4 separate regions of the Homo sapiens genome follow, and regions 2, 3 and 4 are each reported to be linked to region 1. The links are microRNA targets in miRTarBase. Many come from high-throughput screens and were not tested one by one. Region 1 holds a microRNA gene; each other region holds the end of a gene's coding sequence.
The links. The annotated mature microRNA hsa-miR-34a-5p reads UGGCAGUGUCUUAGCUGGUUGU and lies in region 1 at 3,587-3,608, opposite strand. An mRNA with a match to its seed (bases 2 to 7 or 8) in the 3' UTR can be bound and repressed. Matches are read on the target gene's strand: a 7mer-m8 pairs with bases 2 to 8, a 7mer-A1 pairs with bases 2 to 7 and ends in A, and an 8mer does both.

Region 1 (7,616 bases):
TCAAAACTAAGAAATTAACACTGGTATTACTTTTAACTAAAGGCTTTTTTGGATTTTACCAGTTTTTTCACTCATGCCTTGTTTTGTTCCAAAATCCAACCCAGGATATCACACTGCATTTAATCAAATGTAAATACGTATGCTTTAACTTTTTTATTTTAAAATAATCATAGATTTACAGGAAATTGCAACAACAACAAAAAAAGTACAGAGATTCTGTGTACCCTTCCCCCAGTTTCGTTCAGTGGTAACTCCTTGTATAACTACACAATATCAAAACCATGAAATAGATATTGGCACAATCCATAGACAGTATTAAATATACATGCATATATATATATTTTTAAGTGAAAAATATTTTTAAACCTCGCTTTGCCTCACAGCCAAGAAGATCAAATACTTTCTCCAAAAACATAGAATTTGTATCTAACTCCACTCGCTCCAAACTCAAGTCCAACCATGAAATTATTGATCCCTCTCTCTAACCCTCCAACTACAGGCAAGAAGCTGCCCATACATTCCCCAAAGCAGGAGTGCACTCTGCCACAGGCCTAGATGCCGTCAACCTCCTGGACCTTGAACTCCCTAAATTAATGGCCTCTGTGTGAGTATGTGTAAGCAGCCCCTCTCTGTCCCAGTCCATCCTAAAATCACTCCCTTGGAGCCACCACTGCCCCTCTCATCTTCTAGAATTTCTAGAAAGATAAAGAGCTAGATAAGCATCTAGGTACCTTTCTTCTGCTGTTAGCTCTAAAGACAAGTGAATATATCCTAGCTAGGATGTACTCTAAGGAATGCAGAAGTAGGCCGAGTGCAGTGGCTCATTCCTGTAATCCCAGTGCTTTGGGAGGCCGAGGTGGGCGGATCACCTGAGGTCAGGAGTTTGAGTCCAGCCTGGTCAACATGGCAAAGCCCCGTCTCTACTAAAAATACAAAAATTAGCTGGGCGTGGTGGCGGGTGCCTGTAATCCCAGCTACTCGGGAGGCTGAGGCAGGAGAATCACTTGAACCCCCAAGGCAGAGGTTGCAGTGAGCTGAGATGGTACCACTGCCCATTTCAAAAAAAAAAAAAAAAGAATGCAGAAGTAAATTAAATGACCACAAAGAGTTTTTTTTAATTTGAGACAGGGTCTGGCTCTGTCACCTAGGCTGGAATACAGTGGCGCAATCTCAGCTCACTTCAATCTGTGCCTCCTGGGCTCAAGCCATCCCCTGACCTCAGCCTCCTGAGTAGCTGGGACTACAGTCCTGCCACTATGCCTGGCTAATTTTTGTATTTTTTGTAGAGATGTTGCCCAGGCTGGTCTGAAACTCCTGAGCTCAAGGGATCCATCCACCTGGGCCTCCCCAAGTGCTGGGATTACAGGCATGCGCCACCGTGCCCAACCCAGACATCACTTTTATCTGAAGCAACAACTATCTGCTCTTTCTGTTTCCTTACTAATTATCCAGGAACTTTTACAGGTGAACTCTGAGGAGGACAATTTTTATTGTTTTTATGTCAGCATAACTAAAAGTAAAGCTGGATAGGAAGAGGTTACTTGAAAATGATTTCACCTGAACTCAAATGAATAAGCTGGCTACTGCATAAAGCAACAGAGGGGTCCCTTTAATTTAAAAGCTCAGGACTCTGAATCAATTGCTGGTTGGGAGAAGGTAGAGACATTCTTTACTTCTGCCTAGAACTGGGGAAAATGGCGTAGACTTCTGCTCTGAAGCAGTCCTCAGTGCTGCTTCGGTCAGAACTCCCGAGAGGCATCTGAGTGCTGGCCTGTCACTGCGGCTGGCATTCCAGGCATTTCATTGGCCCCACTTCAGCCCACGCCTGGCTCCACGGGGCTGGGCAGCTGAGGGGAGTTTGTGGCAGAGTGGGCATGGGGCACGGCCCGTGCAATGTGCGTTACAAAGGGGCTCTCTCTGAAGCAAGTCCTCTGCACTCCAGTCTATTTGAGGAAGAAAAGGACAATTCCCATAGGGAGGGGGTTTGCTGAAGCAACCAGCTGCCTGGTTTCCTCTCCAGCATTGAGAGGGAGGGAGGGCTGGCTTAACTGGGGGACGGCCTTCTCATCTGGACTGTGTCAAGGCCAAGGTTAGGCTCCAAATTCCAGAAAACCTCTCTGCAGGGTCTTCTTTCAGAGTGGTGAGAATGGAAGCAGGCTCCCTTCCCCTCCAGCACTAGGAAGCCCCGCAATTGGTGAGGTGCAAAGAAAGATGGGCCCAGGCAGGGAGGCGGGAGCAGGGGAGGTGCCCAGGGCAGTGGCTGGAAGGGCAACGGGAGAAGCAGCAGAGGCTGGGGGTGGGGGTCGCAGCAGGTGCTGTCCCTGGCCTGTGTGAAAGGTACTAGAAGGCCCCATCCTTGGTGCCACATGGACCCCAGAGGCTTGTCTTAGTCCATGGGGTCCGAGGTGTAAGACACTTACGTTTGGCGTCACCTCTTAGGCTTGGATGAATTTCAGAAAGTGCTAGACTGGAGAACAGTGGAAAAAATCAGTGGAACAAGATCTGGAGCACTCACTGCTCAATGTCAATGTTAGAGAGCACAACGACACCAATGGGAGGAGGGTGAGGACCAGAGGCTGATTGCATGAGCTCTGTTGGAGTGCAGGACCCACTAACGGGTTATCTCAGGGTTCCTGGAGGCCACGGCTGTGCCTTGTGGTCCAAGACCTGGGGAAGCCACCACTGTGTCTTCCCTCTCCATCCTCCGGTGACTTTGGTCCAATTCCTGTTGCCATGGCAATCAGCCCAGCTGGCCTCACAGTTCACTGGCCTCAAAGTTGGCATCTGTAGGTGAAGCCAGTGGGACCCAGAGAACTTAATTCTTCTCAACTGAGCTGGCTTGGAGGAACTTTTCTCATCAGCCACTGGAGCAGAGAACGTCACCAGCGTCTCACTGACGTCAACATCCTGGGCCTGGCTCTAGCTGAAAAGGAAAATTCTCCCCAAGGCAGACACATCTCCCGAAGCCCACACAGGCACTTTCTATGATTGCACTGGAAATCTGTCTCCTGGGGACAGGGAGCGCGTACGCTCACAGTCAAGTCACAATGTTGAGCAGTCTCCAGGACTCCACGTTCATCTCTAAGAACAGGAGCCGGTGGTTGGGCGCAGATTCTTGAGCCAGATTGCTCGCGTTCAAAACCTGGTCCCTTTTTATTAATTGCATGCTTAGTTACATTTTCTGTTTGTACTTTTGTTTCCTTCTCTGCAAGACGGGGTTAATCACAGACACTTGTACATGATGTAATACACTTACAATACTTAGGACAGGCCTTCCTGCATAGTAAGTGCTCTGCAAACACTGGCTACTATTCTCCCTACGTGCAAACTTCTCCCAGCCAAAAGCCGCCCACACCAAGCCCCTGTGCCTTTTTCCTTCCGCACCCACGAGCAGGCTGCTCCTGGGGCCCTGGAGCTCACTTTCCCAGCCGCCCTCACCACCCACCGTGGCGCAGAAGAGCTTCCGAAGTCCTGGCGTCTCCCACTGGTCTGGGCATCTCTCGCTTCATCTTCCCTCTTGGGCCCCACAACGTGCAGCACTTCTAGGGCAGTATACTTGCTGATTGCTTCCTTACTATTGCTCACAACAACCAGCTAAGACACTGCCAAAGAAACACTCACAGCTGGCCGGTCCACGGCATCCGGAGGGGACTCGGGGGACAGGCCTGTCCTGCCTCTCCCCAGCACCTGTTGATAAGAAGGAAATGTGGGGAGGAAAGAAAGGATGCAGGAGGCCGAGGTGGGAGGATCGCTTCAGGCCAGGAGTTCAAGACCAGCCCAGGCAACTAGCAAGACTCCATCTCTACAAAAAAATTTTAAAAATTAGCCAGGCATGGTGACATGCGTGCCTGTAGTCCTAGCTACTGGAGAGGCCAGGGCAGGAGGATCGCTTGAGCCCAGGGGTTGAGGCTGCAGGGAGCTGTGATTGCGCCAGTCTGGGTGACAGGGTGAGACCCCGTCTCTAAAAATAAAAATTGGGTGATGGCTCACACCTGTAATCCCAGCAATTTTGGAGGCCAAGACAGGAGGATCACTTGAGGCGAGAAGTTCAAAACCAGCCTGGTTAACATAGCCAGACCACCACCTTCAGCAACTGTCTCTACAAAATGAAAATAAAAATAATGAAAGAGAGAGGATGGAGGAGAAGGCTGAGACCAGTAACAGATTCCAAAAGGACTAATTGACAAGGAGAAAAAGAGTCAGCACTTCCCTGGAAGAGAAAAAATTCGAAAAGGACAGTGGTTGAAAAGTCAGCATGTCTGCGTGAAAGGGAAGCAATGAAGTAGCGCCAACTCCTCCCCCGTCCCGGGCACCGTTTAGGGAGAGGATCAGAGTTCTGCCAGAGAATCAGAACCAGAAGGAGATATAGATTAAGTTTATTTCAAGGAATCGGCTTACGTGATTGTGGGGGCTGGCTAGGCAAGTCTGAAATCCAGAGGGCAGGCCAGCAGGCCGGAAGCTCCCCGGAGGAGCTGACACTGCAGTCCCCAGGCAGGATTTCTTCTTCTTCAGGGAAACCTCGGTTCTGCTCTTGAGGCCTTTCAACCGATTGCATGAGGCCCACCCACCTCGCAGAGGAGAACCTTTGACTTACAGCCAGTGATCATCAGTGCTGACCACATGTACAACGCACCTCACAGTAGCACCCAGGCAAGCGTTTGGTTGAATCATGGGTATCACAGCCTCGCTAAATTGACAAGGAAATTGCCCATCACAGGGTTTAAGATCTAGTGCTTTAAGATCTACTGACTTCTTGTTGTTTTGTTGTTGTTGTTTTTATAGAGATGGGTTCTTGCCATGTTGCCCAGGATGGTCTCAAACTCCTGGGCTCAAGTGATCCTTCCGCCTCGGCCTCCCAAAATACTGGGGTTATAGGCATGAACCACTATGCCAGGCCAAGATCTAGTGACTTTGGATACGGACCACCACGGAACAGTTCCTCTTCCATGTGGGTGTGGGGGCATGAAGGACTGTTTTCAGGAGGATCAAAGTCACCTCTACCCCAGCATGGGAAGTCCCAGAAACTTGAGTTCCAGGTAAGGTAGTGCAGAAAAAAGCAGGCTCATGAGCCAGTGCTGTCTCTCTCTGTGCAAGGGGGAAAGAGCCCCTCTGAGGCCTCCACACACAGTCAGCAGGACACAGGACACAGAGGTCAGCCTGTTGTGGCCACTGTGAAATGTCCCGTTGGAGTTGACAGGAGCCTGCTCTGACCTCAGTCCTCCTCCTCCAAACAGGTGACCCTGTAATGCTCTGGTTAAAAAGCAAGCCAGCTGGACTGTGTTATCTTTTAGTGTGGGAAAAATGCTCTTAGGCCGGGCGTGGTGGCTCACACCTGTAATCCCAGTACTTTGGGAGGCTGAGGTGGGTGGATCACTTGAGATCAGGAGTTCGAGATCAGCCTGGTCAACATGGTGAAACGCCATCTCTACTACCAAAAAAAAAAAAAAAATACAAAAATTAGCTAGGCATGGTGGCATGTGCCTGTAGTTCCAGGTACCTGGGAGGCTGAGGCAGGAGAGTTGCTTGAACCTGGGAGGCAGAGGTTGCAGATCACACCAGTGCACTCCAGCCTGGGTGACAGAGCGAGACTCTGTCTTAAAAAAAAAAAAAAAGCTCCTAATATGTCAGATTTTAACCCAAAGGTAAATTCCAGCAGGGCATGCTCATCAGCTAGAGCGGCAGGTCTCGGCTTCACTGTGTAAGCATCGGCTGGGGAGCTTTTGGTAAAATGCAGATTCCCAGGTTCAAACCTAGAAGTTCAGACTTGGCAGCTCTGGGATGATGCCAAAGGTACATCCTGCAGTTGCTGTGTCCCCAGGTCAGCGCAGAGACAAGCAAAAACTCAAAGCTTCCTCCCTCCCTCAACTCCCAGCCAAGACTGGACGGGGCAGGGGACCCCAGAATCCTGAAAACAGATAGCCACATGGAAACAGTGACCACAGCACACTTGAACTTTGTAAGCACAGCAGAAGCGTGTGGGATGGGCTGGCCCATCCAGAGATGGGGTGCAAGAGGCAGGAATCTGGCCTCATGGTGGCTCCTGGCTTCAGCCCCAGCACTGCCACCAGAGGGAGGGCCGTGTGTTTTCAGGGGTGGGCATGGCAGGGGTGTCAGGCAAACACTAACACAGTGAAGTGCAACTGCCAAGTCTTCCAGCCAGCCCGATCCTCAGGCTCGGAAACGGTCCCAGAGGAAAAGATGGTTCAGAAGAGAGAGAGAGTAAGATCCCGGGGACATCTGAGCCAAACCACACGCACTTTCCACTGCTCAGCAGCCCCTGTCCCAGACTTCCAAACAGAATTCCATTTTCTGAATCTAGACAGCCACCTGGGTGAAGGCATCTACCCATGAAGGCTGCTGCCCCAGGCACCAGAAGGACAGGAGGGGGCCCTTCCTCTTCCTCCTGAGTCAGGACCCTCAGATGGAGAAGAAAATCCTCCTAGTCAGAAAGAGGAGGCTCTGACTTTAGGGACAATCTTTCTAGTTAGAGAGAGGAGGTCTGAACTCTGTGGACAATCTTTCCAGTCAGAGAGAGAAGGCCTGGACTTCAGGGACAATTTTTTCTGGTTAGACAGAGGAGGTGGTGGTGGTAGTGCATGCCTGTAGTCCCAGCTACTCAAGAGGCCAGGGTGGGAGGATCACTTGAGCCCAGGAATTGAGGCTGCAGTGAGCCACTGCGCTCTAGCCTGGGTGACAGAGCAAGACCCTGTCTCTAAAAATAAAAATAAAAAATTGGATGGTGGCTCACATGCGTAATCCCAACACTTTGGGAGCCCAAGGGGGGAGAATCACTTGGGGACAGCCTTTCCAGTCAGAGAGAGGAGGCCTGGACTCTGAGGACAATCTTTCCAGTCAGAGAGAAGAGGCCTGGACGCTGAGGACAATCTTTCCAGTCAGAGAGAAGAGGCCTGGACTCTGAGGGCAATCTTTCCAATCAGAGAGAAGAGGCCTGAACTCTGAGGACAGTCTCTAGTCAGAGAGAGGAGGCCTGGACTCTGAGGACAGTCTTTCCAGTCACAGAGAGGAGGCCTGGACCCTGAGGACAGTCTTTCCAGTCAGAGAGAGGAGGCCTGGACTCTCAGGACAATCTTTCCAGTCAGAGAGAGGAGGTCTGGACTCTGAGGACAGGCTTTCCAGTCAGAGAGAGGAGGCCTGGACTCTCAGGACAGTCTTTCCAGTCAGAAAGAAGAGGCCTGGACTCTGAGGACAGTCTTTTCAGTCAGAGAGAAGAGGCCTGGACTCTGAGGGCAATCTTTCCAGTCAGAGGGAGGAGTCCTGGACTCTGAGGACAATCTTTTCAGTCAGAGAGAAGAGGCCTGGACTCTGAGGGCAGTCTTTCCAGTCAGAGAGAAGAGGCCTGGACTCTGAGGACAGTCTTTCCAGTCAGAGAGAGGAGGCCTGGACTCTGAGGACAATCTTTCCAGTCAGAGAGAAGAGGCCTGGACTCTGAGGGCAATCTTTCCAGTCAGAGGGAAGAGGCCTGGACTCTGAGGACAGTCTTTCCAGTCAGAGAGAGGAGGCCTGGACTCTGAGGACAGTCTTTCCAGTCAGAGAGAGGAGGCCTGGACTCTCAGGACAATCTTTCCAGTCAGAGAGAGGAGGTCTGGACTCTGAGG
Region 2 (7,309 bases), not on the chromosome of region 1:
GGCAGGCACAGGTGTCCTGGGAACACACTTTGAGAAGCAATGGCAAAGCTGGGGGTCCAGCTAATGTGTTACATTAGAATCACCTCGGGGAGGCCCTGGGTGCCCTTCTCAGCCCTCCCTCCGGAGGCTGCTGAAGCCCAGCAAAGCCGGAGTCAGAGAACAATGTCCGCCTGAGGGCAGGGCTGGGCTGGGCTGGCCTTCTGGCCCTATCTGCTCCGTGCCCAACCCAGCGCCCCGCACAGTCGGAGCTTTGTAAATACGAGGTGACTGTCTGCCTACAAACTTTGTAAACATCACTTGAAATGGCCGCAGGGTATTGTGACATGGCCATACCACTATTTGTTTGCTATTGAATTTGTACTTCCCTGCCTTACTTTTGCTATTGCAAACCATGCTGTCACTAAGGTCTTCATGCACACAGTTGTGTCTTGGTCAGATGATATGTTTCTACCAATTTTAATTGTGTTTCTTTCCACCTGGACACACAGCTCTCTGGCCCAGGGCTGGGTCATCAGCACACCCTGCTGCTGCTGTTCAGATCTGCATCCTGGTCCCGCTTGGTCCCACAGTGAGAACGCTTTGCTATCACATGGGCAGGCTCTGAGAGCCCTGCCGGCCTGGCCTTCTCAAAGAAGACCTGAGAGCTTGGGACCCAAGCAGAGAGGAAGAACAGGGCTCAGGGTGCTTGCTCCATGCTCGCTCCACACCTGGGGCTCAACCCTGGCTTTCCCCGGCTCCCTGTGTGACTTCAGGGCAGGTCCCTTGGGCCCTCTGGGCCTTATCATCTTCATCTGTAACAGGGCGATGCCTCTGCCGTGTCTGGTGGTGTTGAGGAGTTCCTGTTTGTGTAAGCAGCTAGTTCAGTGCCAGCACGAGATGGGAGGCCCATGAAGTTAGCAGTGCACAAAAAATAGAGCAAAGACTGGATGCATTTCCTGAGAACAACCATCACTGTAAAGCACTTTACAAATCCAAAGACAACCCCCGGCAAAAACTCAAAATGAAACTCCCTCTCGCAGAGCACAATTCCAATTCGCTCTAAAAACATTACAAGTTAGTTCATGTCATGCCAGATAGCTGAAGGCAGCTCACAAGTTCTTAAGGCCAGGAATGCCATGTGTCTGCTATGCACAGCTGGCCCTGGCCCTGACAGCAAAGGTGACGCAGATGTGGGTGCCCTGCTCCTGCCCAGCAGCAGTGCTTGGTGGAGGCTGAGGCCCTGCACAGGCACCCTCACTGCTGACCTTGAGCCTCTCTCTCCTCTAGAGTGGAAAAGACAAGGATGCCGTGGATAAATTGCTCAAGGACCTGGACGCCAATGGAGATGCCCAGGTGGACTTCAGTGAGTTCATAGTGTTCGTGGCTGCAATCACGTCTGCCTGTCACAAGTACTTTGAGAAGGCAGGACTCAAATGATGCCCTGGAGATGTCACAGATTCCTGGCAGAGCCATGGTCCCAGGCTTCCCAAAAGTGTTTGTTGGCAATTATTCCCCTAGGCTGAGCCTGCTCATGTACCTCTGATTAATAAATGCTTATGAAATGATCCTGGTCTCAGAGAAACTGGTTATTTCCTTAAAACCTCAGTGTCCTCTCCCCACAAAACAGAATTCACTAATTAAACTTGTCATTTCATTACTCATTGCCTGCCTGCAGTGGTGAGACAGATGAAGAAGACAAGGCAGTCGATAAAAATCCATTTGTTGGCCATCTTCTGAGTGCCCACTGAGACACAGTCCCACCTTTGGCCGTGTGAATGCCACCATGTCCTGGACCCAAGGGAGGCTCGGGTACACACATCCATGTATTTATTCATCTACTTCGTAATTCATTTAGTCGGTCACGTAGCCACTCATTGAACCTGGGCCCCTCCATCTCTCCAAACAGCATGTTTTCTTCAAGTAACATACTTCTAATATTTATTTATTTTTGAGACGGAGTCTCGCTCTTGTCACCCAGGCTGGAATGCAATGGCGCCATCTCAGCTCACTGCAACCTCCGCCTCTTGGGTTCAAGTGATTCTCCTGCCTCAGCCTCCCGAGTACCTGGGACTGCAGGCACCCGCAAAACCACACCTGGCTACTTTTTGTATTTTTAGTAGAGACGGGGTGTCACCATGTTGGCCAGGCTGGTCTCGAACTCCTGATTTCAGGTGATCTGCCCACCTCAACCTCCCAAAGTGCTGGGATTACAGGTGTGAGCCACTGCGCCTCGCAAAGTAACATATCTTTTTTTCTTTTTTTTTTTTTTTGAGACGGAGTCTCACTGTGTTGCCCAGGCTGGAGTGCAATGGTGCGATCTTGGCTCACTGCCAGCTCCGCCTCCCAGGTTCACGCCATTCTCCTGCCTCAACCTCCTGAGTAGCTGGGACTACAGGTGCCCACCACCACGCCCGGCTAATTTTTTGTATTTTTAGTAGAGACAGGGTTTCACCGTGTTAGCCAGGATGGTCTCGATCTCCTGAGCTCGTGATCCACCCACCTCGGCCTCCCAAAGTGCTGGGATTACAGGCTTCAGCCACCACGCCCAGACAGTAACATACTTTTAATGATGCAATGCTATTTTTGCCACAAAGACTATGAAACACCATAACAGAGAAACAATGAATTCCAAGAGAGCATTAGAATCATCAGTGAACAACTGCTCACATCACCTGTATTTAGTTTTACGACACTAATGTTGGGAGCACCCAAAAGGACTCAAGCGAGGTCTTGGATGATAGGTAGGTAACTGGATCTGGTTTTAGGACCCCTATCATTTTTTGGATACCCAGTATTTAAAGCCTCTTGCTATGTTTGAAGACATTTTCACTAGAGAAGATCTATCACCAAAAGATCCTGAACTTGGAGGTGGACACAACAATACGAGGCTTGGGTGGATCCCTCTTTGGGGAAGGGACTGCAGATTGCAAATATTTTTGCTAGAGAGAGAGTCGTGTTAGGTTAGATGGGAGCAGATACACACATTTAAATAAAGTAAAAACTAATAATGAGGGAGAAGTAAAGTTAATAATGGGGGAAACAAAAGGGGTGGACTGCCAGAATGGAAATCTTTGTTTCTTTTTTCCTTTGAGAGACGGCCTTGCCCTGTCACCCAGTCTGGAATGCAGTGGTGCTATCGTGGCTCACTGCAATCTTTTTTTTTTTTTTGAGACGGAGTCTTGCTCTGTCGGCCAGGCTGGAGTGCAGTGGTGTGATCTCAGCTCACTGCAAGCTCCACCTCCCGGGTTCACGCCATTCTCCTGCCTCAGCCTCCCGAGTAGCTGGGACTACAGGTGCCTGCTACCAAGCCTGGCTAATTTTTTGTAATTTTTAGTAGAGACAGGGTTTCACCATTTTAGCCAGGATGGTCTCGAGGCTCACTGCAATCTTAAACTCCTGGGCTGAAGCAATCTTCCTGCCTCAGCCTCCCAAGTAGCTGGGACCACAAGAACGCACCATCGCGGCTGGCTAATTTTTTGTAGAGACGGGGTTTTGCTATATTGCCCAGGTTGGTCTTGAACTCCTGGGCTCAAATGATCCTCCCAACTCAGCCTCCCAAAGTGTAGATGTTAGAGGCGTGAGCCACATGCTCAGCCTGTTTTTCTTTTTTCTTGCTGTTTAACAAATTAGTTACCGTCCTATAAATGACAAACCACCCAGCTTATCAGTTCTGGGGGGAGGCAGAGCCCTCACTCCCCAGCCTCTGTCATAGCTGGGGTGCAGGCACCTGACCTGGGCTCTCCCAGACTTTATTCTCACCCCAGACTTGCAATCGGACAATTGACACAAACAGGCAGAGACCTGAAAAACCTCTTATGGGTTTTGCAGCAGCGCCATATGAGAGGTTTCTGGCTACGTAGCTATGAACCTCGTCCTCCAGGACTCTTGAAGGAGACAAGTCTTTTGTAAATCAATCACCTAGGCTGAATTTCTGTGCTTTGTGACTAAAAACCCAGACTACTGGAGCAGGAAAACAACAGCGTGCCACTTCCTCTGGGTGTCCTTCCTGGGTTATCTCTGACAGGTCTTGGTAATTCCTGACCTCTCCTTATAGAGACAACAGGGCCCATCCCTCCTCAATCTTTCTTTCATCTCTCCTCAATCTTTCATTCATTTCATCCTAGCTTCTTGCCCTGCACCAAATGGTAGATTACGTCTGGTTTGGAATTCAATTCCCTGCCCCAGGAGACCAGCCTCCCATGGTGCTCCATCATTGATTTCTGTTCAGGGTCTTCTGAGCAGCCTGCAGATGCCTCGTTCCTGGAGGTAAAGTCCACAGTCACTTCTCCGGAGTTTATACCAACTCTGCATGAAGCAAAAGCCAGGTCCAAACAGTAGGGTTTGTTGTTGTTGTTGTTTTTTGTTTTTTGTTTTTTTGAGACAGGGTCTCACTCTGTTGCCCAGGCTCAAGTGCAGTGGCATGATCACAGCTCACTACAGTCTTGATCTCCTGGGCTCAAGTGATCCCCCCACCTTAGCCTCCTGAGTAGCTAGTACTACAGGCATGTGCCACCACACCTGGCTAATTGTTTTTTATTTTTTTGTGGAGACAGGGATCTCACTATGTTGCCCAGGCTGATCTGGTACTCCTGAGCTCAAGCGATCTTCTCACCTCAGCTTCCCCAAATGCTGGGATTACAGGTGTGAATCAGTGCACCCAGCCCCTAAACAGTATTTTTTAATGGCTACAAGGAATTTATTGGAATGAGGGTACCATCGTTTGCTCATTGTTAAAGATACTGTTCTTCATATTTTTGTAGAATGTATGTTCCTATTTTTGTTTTTAGAAAGTATGCTACAATTAACATTTTCATGTATAAAGCTTTGTCTTTTGGGGTTTTTTTTTTTTTTGTAAGATGGGGTCTTACCATGTTGCCCCGGCTGGTCTCAAACTCCTGGCCTCAAGTAACACTCTTGCCTTAGCCTCAAAAGTGTTGGGATCACAGGCGTGAGCCACTGTGCGTGGCCAAAGCTTTGTCTTAAGCTCAGATAATTTCTCAAAATCAAATTCCATTTTTTACCTAGGATGACTGGATCAAAGGGTAATTTTTTATTGTGGTGTCAACATAAAATGTACCATCCTAACCATTTCCAAGTGTACAGTTCGGCAGTGTTAGGTATACTCACGTTGTGGTGCAGGTCAGTCTCCAGAACTCTTTCCATCTTGTAAAACCACAACTCTATCCCCACTAAACCCTCACTCTCCCTCTCCTTCTCTGGCCGCTGGTCCTGACGATTCCACTTTGTTTCTATGAATTTGACTCTAGGAACGTCATATGACTGCAATCACACAGGATTTGTCCTTTTGGGACAGGCTTATTTCACTCAGAATCATGTCCTCAACGTTCATCCGTGTTGTAACATGTGTCAGAATTTCTTCCTTTATAAGGCTGAATAGTCCACTACGTGTATACACCAAACTTGCTAATTGCTAATTCATCTTGCTAATTCATCTGCTGATGGACAGTTGGGTTACTGCCAGAATTTTTATTTATTATTATTATTATTATTATTATTATTATTATTATTATTATTATTTTGAGACGGAGTCTCGCTCCTTCGCCCAGGCTGCAGTGCAATGGCGGGATCTCGGCTCACTGCAACCTCTGCCTCCCGGGTTCAAGTGATTCTCCTGCCTCAGCCTCCCGAGTAGCTGGGATTACAGGCGCCCGCCACCACACCCGGCTAATTTTAGTATTTTTAGTAGAGACGGAGTTTCACCATATTGGCCAGGCTTGTCTCAAACCCCTGACCTCAGCTGATCCGCCCGCCTCAGCCTCCCAAAGTGCTGGGATTACCGGCGTGAGCCACCGCGCCCGGCCTATAATTCTTTTTTAAACAAAACATTTAACCAAGTGTTTCTCCACTGCCCTGCTTGGAAACCAATAGGCAGCCAGTCTCCTTTGTGATGCTTTCCTGTAGGAGCGGCAGCCACCTGAGGCTCTCCTGGCTCTTGGGCTCTCGCAAGCGCCCCCTGCAGCTGCTTTGCAGAATTGCTCCTCGGGCTAAGCTCCCTCGGTTACCTAGCCAGCGCATTTCCACCCCTCCAGAATGTCAGATGTTTGGGTGCTGGGATTGCCATGGCCTACCTAACTGCTCAACAAGCACAATTCTTTTTTTCTTTTTTTTTGAGACCGAATCTCACTCTGCAGCCCAAGCTGGTGTGCAGTGGCGCAATCTCGGCTCACCGCAACCTCTACCTCCAGGTTCAAACGATTCTCCTGCCTCAGCCTCCAGAGTAGCTGGGACTACAGGTGCCCGCCAGCACACCCTGCTAATTTTTTGTATTTTAGTAGAGACGGGTTTCACCATGTTGCCCAGGGTGGTCTCGAACTCAACTCCTGAGCTCAGGCTATCCGCCTGCCTCAGCCTCCCAAACCGCTGGGATTACAGGTGTGGGCCACCACGCCTGGCCAACAATTCTGAATTAAAATTTGAAACGTACAGAAATAACAAACTTACGGAAAAGTTAGAAGTACAGTACAAATAACTATTTTTCTGAATGATTTAAGAATAAGCTGATGCACCACCCCTCAATGCATTAGTGGAGAGAATCCTCCACAGAAGATTCTCCTAATAACCACAATGCCACCATCAAAGTGAGAAAATTAACACTGATACATCACTACCATTGAATCTTAAGCCCTCATTCAAGTTTGCCAATTGTTCTATGTCTTTTTTTTTTTTTTTGCGATGGAGTCTCACTCTGTTGCCAAACTGGAGTGCATTGGCGTGATCTCAGCTCACTGCAACCTCCGCCTCCCAGGTTCAAGCGATTCTCCTGCCTCAGCCTCCTGGGTAGCTGGGATTACAGGCATCCACCACCATGCCCGGCTAATTTTTGTATTTTTAGTAGAGATGGGGTTTCACTATGTTGGCCAGGCTGGTCTCCAACTCCTGACCTCAAGTGATCTGTCTGCCTCAGCCTCCCACAGTGCTAGGATTACAGGTGTAAGCCACCAGGCCTGGCCACTTTTTAATAAGTATTTTTAGAGAGGAATTTTGAAACTATGTATATATTCTGTTCCTCATCAAGCATTTAATTTATTCATGTATTCACATTTGTGAACTCCTGGTTACCCATATTATTCAGTGGGTTGTAACCTGTTACTAGCATTATCTGTTCTGATGCTCACATTGTCCCTGATCTGATCAATGGGAGCCCATTTCAGCTGGCTTCTATTACCCTCTGACATGTTCTCAACATTCTCTGAACACATCCTTGCCTTCTGTCATCACAAGATGTTCTAGACACATTTCGTACTTTGCTTGCCCTAGCTCTGGAACTGGCCATTTCTCCAAGCAGCCCTAGTTTCTTGTAATGGAAAAT
Region 3 (7,616 bases), not on the chromosome of region 1:
TCTAAATATAAACAGGTGAGTTTGAACAGCCTGTTAATTAAGTCAGGAATTAAGTTACTCTATTTTAACAGAGGTCTAGGCAAAGACATAGTCAGCTGCTCTAACAAAATGACCCTTGTTCCTCTTGCAACCAGATCCAGCCACCCAGGTTCCTAACCCAGGCAGGTGCACCCTGGTACCACATATGACCTTGTTACAATCTCAGGCTCTACCATGACCTTCTTAGAAATTTAGGGCTGGAAGAGAACTTAGAAGTTATCTAACCCTTGTTACATACTTGAGGTCTTCAAGGCCAAGTCTGAGGGGCCCAGCCTACGAGCTTCATAGCATATTGTCATGAATATGCTATGAATATGCTACGAATGGGCTATTCTGAGCCCAGGATGACAGCCAGCTAAGCAGGTATTTCTGAGGAATTGGGACACGTGCAGCATCTGAACTTGAAAGCATTATGCAGCTGTTACTCTCTTACCAATCCTTTCCAGAGATATAATCTTAGTTTTATTTAAAAAAAATTTTAATGGGTAATTTTAATAATGTTATTTAACCCAATGTACCCAAAATATACTTTACATTTTTTCTTTATACTTTTATACTAACCAACCTGATGCATAATTTATATTTACCGCACATATCAATTTGCTTTAATTTTTATCTCAATAGCTTTTAGGGTCCAGTGGTTTATTGTTACATGGATGAATTATATAGTGGTGAATTCTGAGATTTTAGTGGATTCATCACCAAAGTAGTGTACATTGTACCTAATATGCAGTTTTTTATCCCAACTCCCCTCCCACCCTCCTCTTTCTGAGTCTCTAAAGTCCATTATATCACTCTGTATGCCCTTCCATACTAATCGACAACTTGAAGAATCAGGAGATGAAAGTTATTCCCCGTAGGGGAATAACTTTCAATGTAGGGGAATAACTTAGCTCCCACTATTAAGTGAGACTATATCGTTTTTGGTTTTCCACTCCTGTGTTACTTCACTTAGAATAATGGCCTCCAGCTCCATCCAAGTTGCTGCAAAAGACATTATTTTGTTCTTTTTAATGGCTAAGTAATATTCCATGGTGTATACATACCACAATTTCTTTATCCACTCATTAGTCGATGGGCACTTAAGTTGGTTCCACATCTTTGCAATTGTGAACTGCTATAAACGTACGTGTACAAGTGTGTTTTTCATATAATGACTTCTTTTCCTTTGGGCAGATACCCAGTAGTGGGATTGCTGGATCGAATGGTAGATCTACTTTTAGCTAGAGATATAATCTTGAAGTTAGAAAAGAGCTTTCCCAATCTAGTCCAGAGGTTATAAACTAATGGGCCATGGGCCCAAAGGAGCCACAGATATTTATTTGGACTCCTTAGTGTTTTACATATTTTTTAATTAGTTGCTGATACTTCAAAATCTGAAGATCTTGCACAGAAAGATCCACATTTTGCTTGTCTGGAAAAACAGAAATATCTGTCCACATTATGTCCTTAGAACAACAATCAGCTGAGGCTGAGTAGAAGCTACTTCCTTGAGACATGTGAAACTGAACCAGTCAACCAAATTTGCAAACCCTGAATAAATCCAACCAATTCATTTCACTTATGAAGAAAACAAAGTTCTGAGAAAACCGTTTGGCCTGTCCCCATTTAATGACAATATCAAAATCAGAAGCCAGATATTCTGAATTTCAGTCAGTGATCTTCAATGAGAACTGTTGCTTTTTCCCTAAAGAACCCGAAATACAGGGATATTACGTGCTTGTAGGCACTATGAGGAGGAAAAACAAAACTGAAAACTAGGTCTTCTGTCCCTGCACTCACTATGTTCTATCTCCTTACTGGGCCAGAAATTCTTATGCAAATTAATAGGGAGGTAAGACTAGCCAGGAACTCAAAGCCCAAACTTTCCAAGGCCTGTGATCCTGGAACAGCTCTTCCATGTGTCCATGAGAGAGACTGGTGCTAGGAACCAGTAAGTATAGAGGCAAATTTTTTGTGCTCCTTTCTGAGCAGCACACTTTAAAAATTCCATACAGTCTGTATCTGACATAAATTAGGGTATTGTAGCCAAGTTGTCAATTTCACCAATCCTCAAGCCACATGTCTATTCTGTGCAGGTCTATGGAACCTAATGCACAGTCTCCTGAGAGCATAAATGAAGTATCGGGCAATTGGCTATGGCCAAAGGAGACTTGTCTTTTTCCCCTGAGAGATTTGCTCTCACTGAGGCAGAAGAGACTCTTCTAGATGCACCGTTTAGACCCCAACACTTTTCCTGCTCACCGAATACACAGTGACTGTATCCTCTCAGAACCAAATAATAATGACAATAATCATTGTATGAGGTAGCTTTTAAAATGTGCTTTTTTTTCTCTTTTAACTCTCAACTCCCTTAGAAGCTGGGGCTGTTCATCTTCTCAACTTTACAAAGAGGGAACCCAGTAAACAGGATTGCCTCTATATAACAACAACAACAAAAACCTAAAGCTTGAACAGAAAAGGAACTAGTCTCTTACTCATTTAGGTACAATGAAATCCTGGATTAGGGCTTTCACAACAGGCATGAATTCGTTAAGCGCCCAGCTGAGCACTAAATCAGACTTGAGTGGAAGAACTAGGAAAGCCTTGGTGAGATCTTTCGTAATTGCTTTGTCATTAATAAGCAGGATTTTGTTACCCACATTCAATGAGCCCACGATAATAATTTAATTCCAGGCAAGTCTCTCAGAAATAGGTCTTTCAACAAGGAAAAGACCCAAATCCTAACCTAGCACTGGCCACTCAATTCAAAATCATGCAGGATTTTTTAAGTACCAGGGCTTTATGGAGAAATTACAATAGTGGTAAGAAAAATGTCAGCCTTCTCAACACGGCAACATGTATTGAATGAATCACCATCATGTATGTGATGATTACAAAGGCGATTTAGAAAGATGTGGTCAACAGTATTCATTAGCCCTTCACAAGAGCAGGTTTAACAGTTTGGTTACTTCTTCATCTTCTTACGTAAGGCTACTGGCTACTTGGCTATTGAGGCCAAAGTCTCAACAGGGGTTTCACAAGACTAAACCTGTCCTCTCCCCTGCTGTTTTTTCATTTTAAGTTAATGGTGGAGTAAGCACCCACTGAACCAATATTCCAACGAATAACAACCATAAACTCTCAAAAAAATACAAAAAATACATGAGGGTAGGAGACAATAAAAACAGGCAAGTTCTGAAAAGAGATTGAAATTTTAAAGAAGGGAATGGCACAAGGTGAGTTTCCCATTGTACAGCTTTTGGGCTGAAAGAAAACTGCAGTTTTTCTGGTCTAAGAATCAGAGCAACCACAGCTGCTGGAAAATGAGGGGGGAAATCTCAGAAGAAAGAGAGCCAAAGAAAAAGCACCACAAATTCTGTGCATAAATTCTATCCATCTCTCTGGCTAAGCCCTGAACTATGTGCAGCATAGACTCCAGCTAACTGAATTGAGATTTTCAGCTGCTGCCCAAGAGAGTTTACAGTTTGAGTCCAATAAAGTTAAATGCCTGCTAACACAAGCAATATATATATATACACACACACATACACAATATATATATATTTGTGTGTGTATATATTTGTATATATATATTTGTGTGTCTATATATACACACAAATGTAATACACAAATGTTGTATATATATATTTTTGTGTATATGTATATTTATGTGTGTATATGTATATATCACAGCACTTTTCAGAGCAATATAACAGAATCTACAACATAAACATTACAATGTTCAGGACACAATCTAAATCACTCAATATATGAGGGACCTCCCCCCAAAATCTGACCATTCTGTAAAGAGGAACAATGGAGACCAATTCTAAGATTATCCAGATGTCAAATTTACCAGAAAAGAATTTTAAAGCATAATTTAAACTCATTGAACATAGTTATGTGTTCTCTACTGAGAACACATAATTTTTTTATTTATGTGTTCTCTACTGAGAACAAATAATTTTTTTATTCACTATATAGTTATGTTCAATGTTTTGTTCGGTTATGTTCATAGTTATGTTCATCTGTTATGTTCAAGGTTCATAGTTTTATTCACTACATAGTTATGTTCAATGAAAACATGCATGTAGTGAATAAAAAAATCTCAGTAGAGAAATATAAAGAATTAGGGAGAAATTCTAGAACCAAATGATAAAATGTCAAAAATTAACTCTTCAGTTGAAGACTCCCTTTGGGAAATACTCCTTAATTTATTTCCTTCGTATCTCTGTTCTTTGGTCCTTTCACCCCTGGAACTCGGTCAATTTAGAAGGAAAAGAGACTAACTTAATTTACCTTTGGATCTTCTATAAGGGCACAAATCAGATCCACAGTTACTGATGTTCCAATGACATGTGAGATGCGAGTTGCAAAATAACTCATAATCAAAATTACCTCCGCTCAGTTGGAGATTGTTTCAAATGACTTTTATTTGTACCAAAACTAAATGGAAAATTGCTTGCTGACACTGTAGGAAGTTAATTTCTTTTTTCTTTGGGAGGCTTGACTTGAGAAAAAGAATTTAGTTAAGTTTGGTGGTGAAATTTTATATACAGTATTTTCATTTGGTGAAGATATGAAGGCCAGGACTAATAGCTCTTCTGCCTAGGATCCCTAATATTTCACACTAGGCCTGATAGTCGCTCCTACAGAGATGACATTTTTCTTTTAGAATGCAGTAACACCTACCAGGCCTCTGTAGGAGGCAGGCTACATACAATAAGGAAGTGTTTTTATGAGGAGAAAAATGATGCTCAGAGACAAAGCATCAAAGTCTTATTTTCTGAAGTGATTCTAACATGGAAGAATTTGGAAAAGATAATCCCAAGACTCAGTCCATTGTGAGTCTCCCATTGGTCCCGCTTCTCACTTGGTCACCAAGTTCTGCACACTATGAGACATATACTTCTGAAACAGCCAGCTTCCCAATCCCAAAGATACCTGGTACTCTCAAAAGCAGGGCATGATAGGCTAGGGCAGAAATTGGTTCCTGGATAAAACAGGACCCTACTCACAAAAAGCGATAATAAATACATTAAGAAAGACTACCAAACAAACCTGAAATGGTTTTAGAAATGGAGGTGATAGCTTCTCTGGGAGCAAGGAGTTATGATTATTTCACTCAATTAAAACAATGTCCAAAATATGAGAATGAAAGCTCCCAAACAGTGTTCTTAGCAATTTTGTAATGTGTACCAATGAAAATTGGTTTTCAGTATTAAAATGGACCAATGTCTCTGAGTTAAGAATTAGTTACTATATCAGAAACAGGAAAAAAAACAAAGTAAATAAGCTGAAAAACTAAAAAGCTCCTCTTTTTATCACAGTTCTTCCACATAAGGCTGATCAACATATCATCCAATGATATAAAATTCTAGAAACTTTACAAAATTCCTTTTTAAAATTTATTTTTTGTTATCAAAGAGAATGTCCAGAAACATTGAGTACTAAAGAATTTGTTCATGGCATTGTTTTACAAAATTTTCTAATGGAGAGTGAATATTTTATTTTCTGATGTATTCTTCACTTATTAATGATGAGGTCAATGAACTGATGCAATTATTTAAAAAAAAAAAAACAGACAACCTTATAAAGGAAAAAACAAAAACAAAAACAAAAAAAAACCAAACGTCCATTCTCATTCTGAATCTGTTGACTGGAGTGAATTCAGTGGTCACAATACCACCATCAAATAAGAATCAACTTCCTCAGAGTAAGGAGCTGTTCCGATCTTCTCAATAGTTCACACAGGTCTCTCAGATATAGGCACCATGTTTTAAGTCTCACACAAAATGTCTGTGTCACTTAAATTACACAATATGGCAGTGTTTGTCTTATGGGGACATACTGAAAGGGGCAAAGTAGAAAACAACCTGTTTGCATGTTATATGTGAGTACATTATTGTACTGTGCATGGGTATGAGGGCATTGCAGCCCTTGTTAAAGAGGAATTCCACCAATTGAAGCCTATGTCAGTTCCCAGCTGCTCTTGGTGCTGAGAGTATCTACTCATATAACCTTATTTTGTTAGATCAGAGCCCTCTTCATCTACAGTTTGGCTGAAATGGTTTGAACTGAGTTTGGTCGAACTGAGTTTGGTCGTTTATCTCTTCCATCTGAGCTTTATTTCTCAGCCTCAGGATATGTGGGGTACTTGACCGTTTCTATCTTCTCTCGAACTTTGTAGGAGGGATATAGGCCCGTCCTTCCCAATTTCCTGTTGACACCTTTAGAATAGCCATCCCAATGATTTCCAGCCACACCAATGATATCTCCAGGTTCCATGGGAATTTCATCTGCAGTTCGGGGTTGGTGAGCATAAATGGCAATTTGATTGTGGGCATTCTGGCCCCCAAAATAGTAGATGTCATCTAAAGAATGGAAGTTTGCAGAGGCATCAGGATGTAGTGTTTGCATAATTTCATAAGCAACTCGACAGACCTTGGGAAAGAATTTAAAAGAAATTGTTAGTATATAAACACTCTCCTTCACAGCAATCTAAAAGCCCTTGGCCAAAAGGATGGGCTCTAGGAGTAAGAGGTTGAAAAGTAGTGGATTCTAGTCACAAGCTTTCAGTCCATTTGTTCTCAGAAGATGGTACAAGTCATTCTTCATCTCTGTGTCTGGATCCTTTTTCAAATAAAGAAGAAAAACTCACGAAAGATTATTACAATTAAAATCTCTCTATCTCTATATAGTACAAAAGAATTTAAGAATATGAATTAGTTAATTTTAACAAACATTTATTAAGAGCTACATACACAGTGGTCCAAGCTAGGCACTCATGATACCAAAATGAGTAAGACATAGTTTGTGCCCTTAAAGAATTTGAAGTTTAGGATTAGGATAAAAAAACTTAACACAAATAAATGCTGATGGTCCCTTTCCTTCATACACTGTTAATCAATCACACATTCTCATCTGCTAATTTATAACTTGGTGTCAGAACTGTTTTCTTTTTTTTTAAATTATACTTTAAGTTTTAGGGTACACGTGCACAACGTGCAGGTTAGTTACATATGTATACATGTGCCATGTTGGTGTGCTGCACCCAGTAACTCGTCATTTAACATTAGGTATATCTCCAAATGCTATCCCTCCCCGCTCCCAGAACTGTTTTCAAGAGAGATTCATGTAATTACTGACAATCAACAAGCACTGGCAAGTGAGCTAAAACACATCGGCAATTTCTGTTCTAAAAAGTTTTAAGTGTGCTGTGTAGAGAGTGGCATGCTTGGATGACATAAACTGGGCAAGCCTTTGAGGAAATGCATCACCCTGATTACTATAGTTTTAAGGCTACTTAAAAGGTCCCTATGTCCAAAGAATACCCTCTCTGCTCACTGGATAGCAGGTGAAATTCCACAATCTGAGCTTCAATCCTTGAGGTTAATGCTTAGTAATAAAGTTAAACTAAACTATCACCCAATTTAAGCAATTTATACATTGTGAAAAGAGAACAATGCAACTCAGATGAAATTTTCCTAAATCTCCAGTTATGGTAATCTTAGTTAATGCTTTATTGTCACTATACCAATAGTTTTGCATGTATTTAAAATGACGCTACTCATAGTAATTGCTTATCTGCTCAG
Region 4 (7,616 bases), not on the chromosome of region 1:
AACTTGAAGAAATACCCACAATATGTAAGGTAAAGGAACAGTTCATAACATAGTAAGGGCTAATGGCCCATTTTTTCATAAAAACTATATATACGTACACATATACCCATACAGTTATACACACACACACACACACACACACACACACAGAAAGACTAGAAATGTCACGAATCAAGCTGCTAATAACAGTTATTTCTGTGGATTGGGATTGACAGGTGTAAGGAAGAATGTCACTTTTTATACTTTCCTGAAATGCTTGAATCTTTTATTGTAAATATGCATTTGTAAATATGCATTCGTATTGTAAATATGAATTCGTTTTGTAAATAAAAACTGCTTTTAAAAATGGGGTATCATAGGATTGAGTGGTTTCTTTCTTCACACTCAAACATGGGGAATGGCTAGCAAAGACTGGATAATACATAGACAGGCTTCTGTAACTTGAGAAAGATGTGGTCAACTTAAAAAAAATGAAAATAAGATTAGGTTTGAAACAAGGATCTGGAAAAAAAAAAAAGGCTAGTAAGGTGGGAATTTGTAAACCTGTAGAAAACCCAGTAGAATAGTAAATGATGGACCTTACCTAACAGAAGAAATTGGGTACAAAGTGTTCTGCACGTATTAATTAAGGTATAGGGAAGAGAAGCTGAAGGATTTAGGTTGGAAATAAAATGAACTCTTTTAGTAAGAGGAAGGTAAACATGGGCTTGGGGACTTCTGAACTTTGAGAACTGCATGGTACAGGAGGGGTTTTCGTGGTAACAATTGCTGCCCTGGACAGCCCCGGTGGCTAACTGGATTCTTTCCACCTCTCTCCAAGTCCGCTCTCCCATGGTGCTGTGAGGCCATCTTTCTCAAACTTAAACCTGAGCTGGTCACCTCTCCCTCCCCGAACACACACACAGCTCGCCGGAGGCCCTGTTAAAACTCTTCAGTGGTCTTCTGTTATTCTGAAGTCTACAATCTGGAACAAGTCCAGCCTGGCACAACCCTTATTCCCTTCACAATGCAACCCTTCCCTTCTAGACCACACTCCCTTGCACTTGGGCCTTTGCTCAGCCTGCACTTTGTTCCTTCTTTCACTGATTAGCTTCCTCTTCCTTCTGGCCTCACTTGAATTATAACCTTCTTCAATCTGGCTAAATTTCCTATTAGTTGCTATCAGAGGACCCCGTGCTTCTGCTTGGTATGCAGTTTGCAAGCATTTGTCTTCTCCCCACCAACTACGAGCACTTGAGACCAGGAACCAGGCATTTCTAGCCCCCACCATGTACCTGGCACAGAGCTGATCTTCAATAAATGTGTTGAGGAAATGAGAAATAGAGTAGCAAGCCTTGCCTATTACACATGCAGGAATGAACAGCCTTTCTGAGATATTTTCCCTTCAATTCCACAATCTTATGAGACCAAAGAGAATTTATTCTCTGAGGGATAAATATAAAGTACAGCACTTAATGGAGTGGTGTTTAGAGCTCTCAGCTGTGAAGACCATGCCTTTATTCCCTCCAGAGACATGACAATAAAGACTTTTCAGTTAGGTGGAAAGGTGATGCAGTCAAGGGTAGCAGTCGCATGCAATACTTGAGTATTTACTGTATAATTCAACAGTTATCACTACTTTGCTTAAATCCATGTACTTGCAAAGAGATCTTGTGCTTTGGATCCATTGGACACCTAATAACTACACTAATGAAGTAAAGCCACACTCCTCTTGCCTCTGACAATGACCACAATGCATAAAGACATCACTTAGGGGTGGGAGGGAGTAGTCAAACAATTTTCACAGAAGATCCACTCCTGCAAAAAATACCCTAAATCATTGTGTTGGAGAGGGCATTTCCCTTCACATAAGCTTCTAATGATTTGTATTGCCAAAGCACTTGGATCTCACTGTGCTAAACATCCACGATGCTGATGGTGTTGCCTCAAAGGAGAAATCGCTTGGAGGAACTTGAAAGGGCTTTTCCTTTTATGATTAATGCAGGCCACCAAAGGTGGTCTCGGATTGCCCCCAGCTGGAAAAATCCTGACGGCATAATTGAGTCTCTGCACATTTGGTGTGGCTGTTTATGGCAGGCAAAGAACTTGCATGACATAAGGGCTTTACAAACAGCTTCAACTGTTGGTTAAGCCAGGGACCACTTTGAGATGCCATCTTTTATAAAGGAGATACTAGGGAAGTGAGCAGAGTTCATAATTACCATCCTGGTGACAAAGCAAAATACAGCAAAGGAGATGGGTTGGAGGAAGGCCTACTATTCAACAAAATGCCTTTTGAACGCCCAGGAGATTAGGTTCTGGAGGAAAACCCCAAACACTAAGTCATAAAAAGGAACAACCAAAAACTGTGTGAAGGAAACTGGAAAGTTATTCAACACTACCTGATCCACCCCCACGAACGTTAGGTCACTTGAGAATGGTTAACTTTCGTATCTAGTGTGACTTGGGAGTATATCTAATTCCACACACATCTACCTCCTGAAGTTAGACTTAGAGATGACTTTGTCTCAGTTTTCACAGCACAGCATTTTGGTTTCATATTCCTCAGCAATGGTTAAGTGTAGTATTTTGTTGAATAGTATGTACTATACTATTCATAATTAAAAGGCCTTCTTCCCCATTTTAATAGAGTGAGAAAATAATTTTTTCTTACAGGCACGGTGGCTCATGCCTGTAATCCCAGCACTTTGGGAGGCTGAGTTGGGCAGATTGCTTGAGCCCAGGCATTTGTGACCGGCCTGGGCAAAAGGGCAAAACCCCATTTCTATAAAAATACCAAAAATTATTTGGGCATGGTGGCATGCCCCTCCAGTCCCAGTTACTCGGGAGGTTGAGCAGGGAGGATCACTTGAACCTGGGAGGTTGAGGCTGCAGTGAGCTGCGATCATGCCACTGCACTCCAGCCTGGGCGTCAGAGTGAGACCCTGTCTCAAAAAAAAAAAAAAAAAAAAAAAAAGTTTTTTTCATTTATTTTGATTGGAAAATAAACCAGGACAACAAAAAGAGTAGAGTACTCATTGCCACGCAGAAATCTTCCTCAATTAAAAAAAAAAAAAAAGTTCGTGTCATTTACTGAGGACTCTTCTGATTGCCAAAGATGTGTATCTATTCTTAGCTCTGTGAAGTATGTCCTTTTACAGATGAGGAAATGGAGGCTTCAGAGGAGGTTAAGGAATGTGCCCAAGAATCACACCAGAAGTGATGAAGCTCTTAGCTTGGCAGGATTTGTTTTATTATCAGGGTTCTGTGCTATACTGTGCTGTGCTGTTTAAACTTTCATGTGCATAAGGCATAGCTGAGGATCTTATTAACTGTACATTCTGACTCAGTAGGTCTGGAGTAGGGCTGAGAATCTGCATTTCTAACAAGCTCCTCAGTGATGATGAGGCAGCTGGTCCACAGACCACACTTTGAGTAGCAAGGCACTATGCTATTGCAATGGCATAGATCCTGCTCTTTCAACACAACGGCATTTCATCAAGTTGGAGTCAGGGGCCCTCAATTGATTACTTGACCCTGATACATTTGAGACAACATAGAGACAAGGAAGATATCAATCCAGAAGCAATAGTGGTTGTGGAATGCATACATTTCCATGTATTTTTACAGTAAAAATGCATTAAAAAATCTTTCACAAAAGAAACTTAAAAAATACAATTAGGGTGTTGAGTCCTCCCCCCCAACATTCTTTCAGGCATCAACTGTGTAACGGAGGGAGACAAATTCCTAAATCGTTTGATTTCATCATACAAAATACTCATCCATTATCTCTCATCAAGACATTTACATTAAGTGGGGGAGGGGGGCGGCGGGATTAAGGAAAGTAGGCTCACAAGAATCAGTTTCCAATTTAAGGTTACAGCAGTTCAAAGAAAACTATATCTTTCTGCATAATGCATAGTCCCTGTACAGTACAATATTTCCAAACAAATCTGATGTGTGGAATTCAGGTGAAACTGCCACACCAAAAAGTCCACGGATTGAGACAAGCCCAGGTGGGTAGCACATAGATTTTAAATTGCCAAATATCATCTTACAACAAGAAGGACATCAAGATGTTAACTTCAGGATATATTCCCAAAATCCACCTTGATTTCATTTATTTAAAACTCTGGATCACAATTGAGAGCATCAGTCATTTAACATCACAGATTTTGTTAGAACTAGTGAGAAGAATCCTAGCAGTGGAGCCCTGGGAATAAAATCTCCAAGTCAGCTCTTAGGAACTTGATGAAAAAGAACATCATTATTCAGTTGTACTCTTCCTCAGCCTTACTACAGCTCAATGTATGCTTTGTATGGAAAACTTTAATAATAAAAATAGCATTCACAGACTTTTCCCTCCTTTTTAGCTACAGAATGTATATTGTGTCTGTTCCAGGAAAGGAACTTGTTTTATAAATGTCCACACAACTACAGCTACTCATTCTAATGTTATGTATAAACCCATAAGTCAAATAAAGCTATGAACAATGTAATATTTATATATGCATAGTGTTTTATAAAAAGATTGGCCCACATACTGCTTTTCATCAATACAGAAAGAGCATTAAGTCCATAGCACACTGCAAGAAATAAATGAGTGAAGAACAGAGAATGCAAACAAGTGCTTAATAATTCACAAGCAGGCTCACCATGGAGGAAATGATGATATTCAAACCAACTAAAGCTTTAGAGAATTACTTATATAGTCTCCCATTTTAAAACAACTTTACATACCTGATTTAGTTTACATTAAAATATATCCCCATGAATCAATTTGTTCCATATTCAGAAATATAAACACGTATCACATTCCTCACAGCTAAATTTTGTCATAAATTCTCTTTTATACAAGAAAAAAAGGCAACAGTTGTTTTCTTTTTTTTCCCAACAGGCTCTATTAATTACAATTTTTAGCTCTGTACACGCAATGATTGGCTGGTTTTCTTTTTTTTTTTCTTTTTCCTTTTTTTTTTTCTTACAGTACCATGGGAACAACAGTGATTGACTTGCAAAGTTTTCTGTCTCTATGGAAAATGCAAAACAGTACTACAGAAATACACAATGCACTGTAAGCAGCGGTTTGCTGTAGTGGTCCAACAGGTACAAGCAAACATTTTGGCTCAGCTAGGCAGTAATCCACTTAAACCACATCCCGGGGCTACGGCCGACCCAACCACAGCTCCTGTGGGATCAAAAAGAATGGGTCTGTTTAAAAATAAAAATTGTTATGTTTTGTGCTGCTGTCCAAAGGACTCAAAGGACAGAGTCATGAGGCAGAAGTTTCCCAACCAGACCTAGAATCACTGGGACCACTTCCTTCCTTTCCCTTCTACCAACCTAGAGACTTGGACTATGGTTTCAAAGTGAAATTGGCATTTCTAACAATGAATACCCACAGCCCTCACTTCTTTAAATATCAACAGAGAGGTTCCTTCCACCAAGGCTCATTGCCTCCTCCCCAGTTTGGCAAAGGGCAACCATGGGCTTCTACTAAAAGGGAGGGGGGCATGCTTTCCAAATTGGGGATCTTACGTCTTCCTCACACCAGGCACACTGTCCCCCCATTCCATCTACTATTCAGCCTCCAATCAGACGAGACAACACGAAAGATGCTTGTTGTCTCTTCCTCGTAGTAATTGAGCAAAGCTGTGATGGCATTGCCTTCAATGAGATTTTATCAGATGTTGGTGATGATCACGAACCTGACTGTCTGTGCTTGGGCTGTATTTGAGTAAAAGTGGCCGACATTTTTGTCTGTGTGCCTTCCTGGGCCAGGGAGAGTACAAACTGTTTTCTGAACCAACTATAACTCACAATATAAAACTTCTTTGTGCTGCGCAGTTTAGCTATAAATATCCTTCATTTGCAATAGTAGTCTTGTCATACAGTTTGCTTACTTTTAGGATCATCGGCAAACCTAATCCATCCCCAAGGGTCCTCAGCTTTTACAAATAAAACTTTGCATTTTTGCTCTTTGCTTTTAAGAAAAACTTCCGACTACAGTATAGCACTACATCACTACATGACAGTCTATATCAAATTAATTAAACTTAATCAATAAATTCCCTTACGTAGAGAAAATGATCAACAGCCCCATTTAACCAGGAGAGAAAAAGATTGCCCCAAAACGGGAACAATTCTTGACGATTCTACAGGTTACGTAGAAACAAAATTTATATCCCTTTGGGCCAGCATTTGGCAAATAATTTCCAAAAAAGTATGCATTTAAAAATACTTTCTTTAATATGATACATCAGGCACAATACTTTTCATATATATTTTTTCTTATAAGATTTCAAATGCATAAAATGTTTGTTGTTATTCATAGGATCATCAGGTGTCAGATGCTTCATTAGGTAAGAAACTAAATAATTTCAGGTTTGTGACTTTCCTCTTAGAACCTTTGACACGGTAAAGGTTGGAATGTGACTCAGCGTCTCAGATACTGAGGTCGGTGCTACATTCTTTGTAAGGTCGCCTTCTCTGCTCCGGGGGATGTCTGGAACTTCTGCCGGCATCCTGTTTCAGATTCGCCTCTTCCCTTTCTCGGTGGCTGGCTCTGTCCTCTCTGTTCCTTTTGTCCAGGGACCGCTCTCTCCTGCGCTCGGGGGAGCGTGCGCGCCTCCGGTCGGTGGACTTGGCCCTGCGCTCGGGCGAGCCCCCTCTCCTGCGCTCGGGGGACCTCCTCTGCTCCAGGAGTCTCTCCAGAGACCGTCTCCGCCGGCTGGGGGAGCCGTCTCTCCTGCGGGTGGGTGACCGCTCTCGCCTCCGCTCCGGAGAGACGTCTCGTCTCTTCTCGTGCTTCTCCCTCCTCTCCAAAGTGTTGTCGGCGCTGCGGGTGCCCTCCCTCCGCTTCTCTGGGGACCGCCTCTTGGGGCCGTTGGCGGCTGCCGCGCGCTCGGCCTGCGCGTCCCTCCGTCCCTCCGGCGCCCGGTCCTTGGGTCGGCATGCCCCGCTGTCGGGTTTCCTCGAAGTCCCATTCCAGGTGTGGTGTTCATTGGGTTGTCTGCTATACTCTCTGCTGCCTTTCGGATCCCTTGCGTGTGCCCGCTTTTCCCCATGTGGTGATGATTTGTGAAGATCGGGTGGGTAACTGGACTCCAATGACGGATGCTGCCGGCGGTCGGGCCCGGCCCTCACTTCCGGAACACCTTGTGGACCGGTGGCGGGGCCGTGGCGGTCGCTGCTGGGGTCTGCCAGGAAAATAAACGAGAGCAACAGTTGGGTACGAAGGTCCCTCGGCTCCTGTCCCCGTTCCCACCCACACTCGAGACCTCATTAGTCACAACAAGCAAACAACTGTTAAAGCAGTCAGACTCAAAGCCAACTGAATCTGTTAACTTAAGGATAACTGCACGTAGTTAGGGTTAAAAACTAGTACTTGTGGCTTTCAGCGTCTGGCTGACTGAATGTTCTCCATACCCGAGACATAGATCATTAAAGAACTGACAAAAATCAGTCATGATTTGAGTCTTTAAAGGCACAATCCAAATAGTCTGTCTAGAGGCATCAAAATTTCCTCTCTGTAGCTATCCCTTGTTCTTCCTTTCCCACCCCCCCAACCCTTTTCCCCTGTGCCCACCCGTCTCCCACACCCAAGAAAATATTCTTTGCTTTAAAGAATACTTGTT

Region 2: the mRNA of S100P is a reported target of hsa-miR-34a-5p. The part of its 3' UTR that is shown has no 7-base or 8-base seed match.
Region 3: miRTarBase lists FUT8 as a target of hsa-miR-34a-5p. Seed matches in the 3' UTR shown: 8mer at 5,845-5,852.
Region 4: miRTarBase lists MAGI1 as a target of hsa-miR-34a-5p. The part of its 3' UTR that is shown has no 7-base or 8-base seed match.

Annotation. Positions count from the first base shown.
Region 1 is chr1:9,148,149-9,155,764 of GRCh38, forward strand. MIR34A (microRNA 34a) reads right to left here and starts at 3,629; the gene lies at 3,520-3,629. MIR34AHG (MIR34A host gene) reads right to left here. Exons shown (of 2, transcript NR_132742.1): 2 at 1-3,687. RefSeq lists a silencer at 3,438-3,674.
Region 2 is chr4:6,695,627-6,702,935 of GRCh38, forward strand. S100P (S100 calcium binding protein P) reads left to right here. Exons shown (of 2, transcript NM_005980.3): 2 at 1,267-1,544. The coding sequence ends at 1,416. Among named protein-coding and RNA genes, the nearest start is that of S100P, 5.4 kb to the left of the region's middle. RefSeq lists an enhancer at 458-1,220.
Region 3 is chr14:65,740,942-65,748,557 of GRCh38, reverse strand. It overlaps FUT8 (fucosyltransferase 8), which reads right to left. Exons shown (of 11, transcript NM_001371533.1): 11 at 4,437-6,465. The coding sequence ends at 6,148. Among named protein-coding and RNA genes, the nearest start is that of MIR625, 270 kb to the right of the region's middle. RefSeq lists an enhancer at 2,293-3,254.
Region 4 is chr3:65,349,955-65,357,570 of GRCh38, forward strand. MAGI1 (membrane associated guanylate kinase, WW and PDZ domain containing 1) reads right to left here. Exons shown (of 23, transcript NM_001033057.2): 23 at 3,572-7,178. The coding sequence ends at 6,424. Among named protein-coding and RNA genes, the nearest start is that of LINC02040, 180 kb to the left of the region's middle.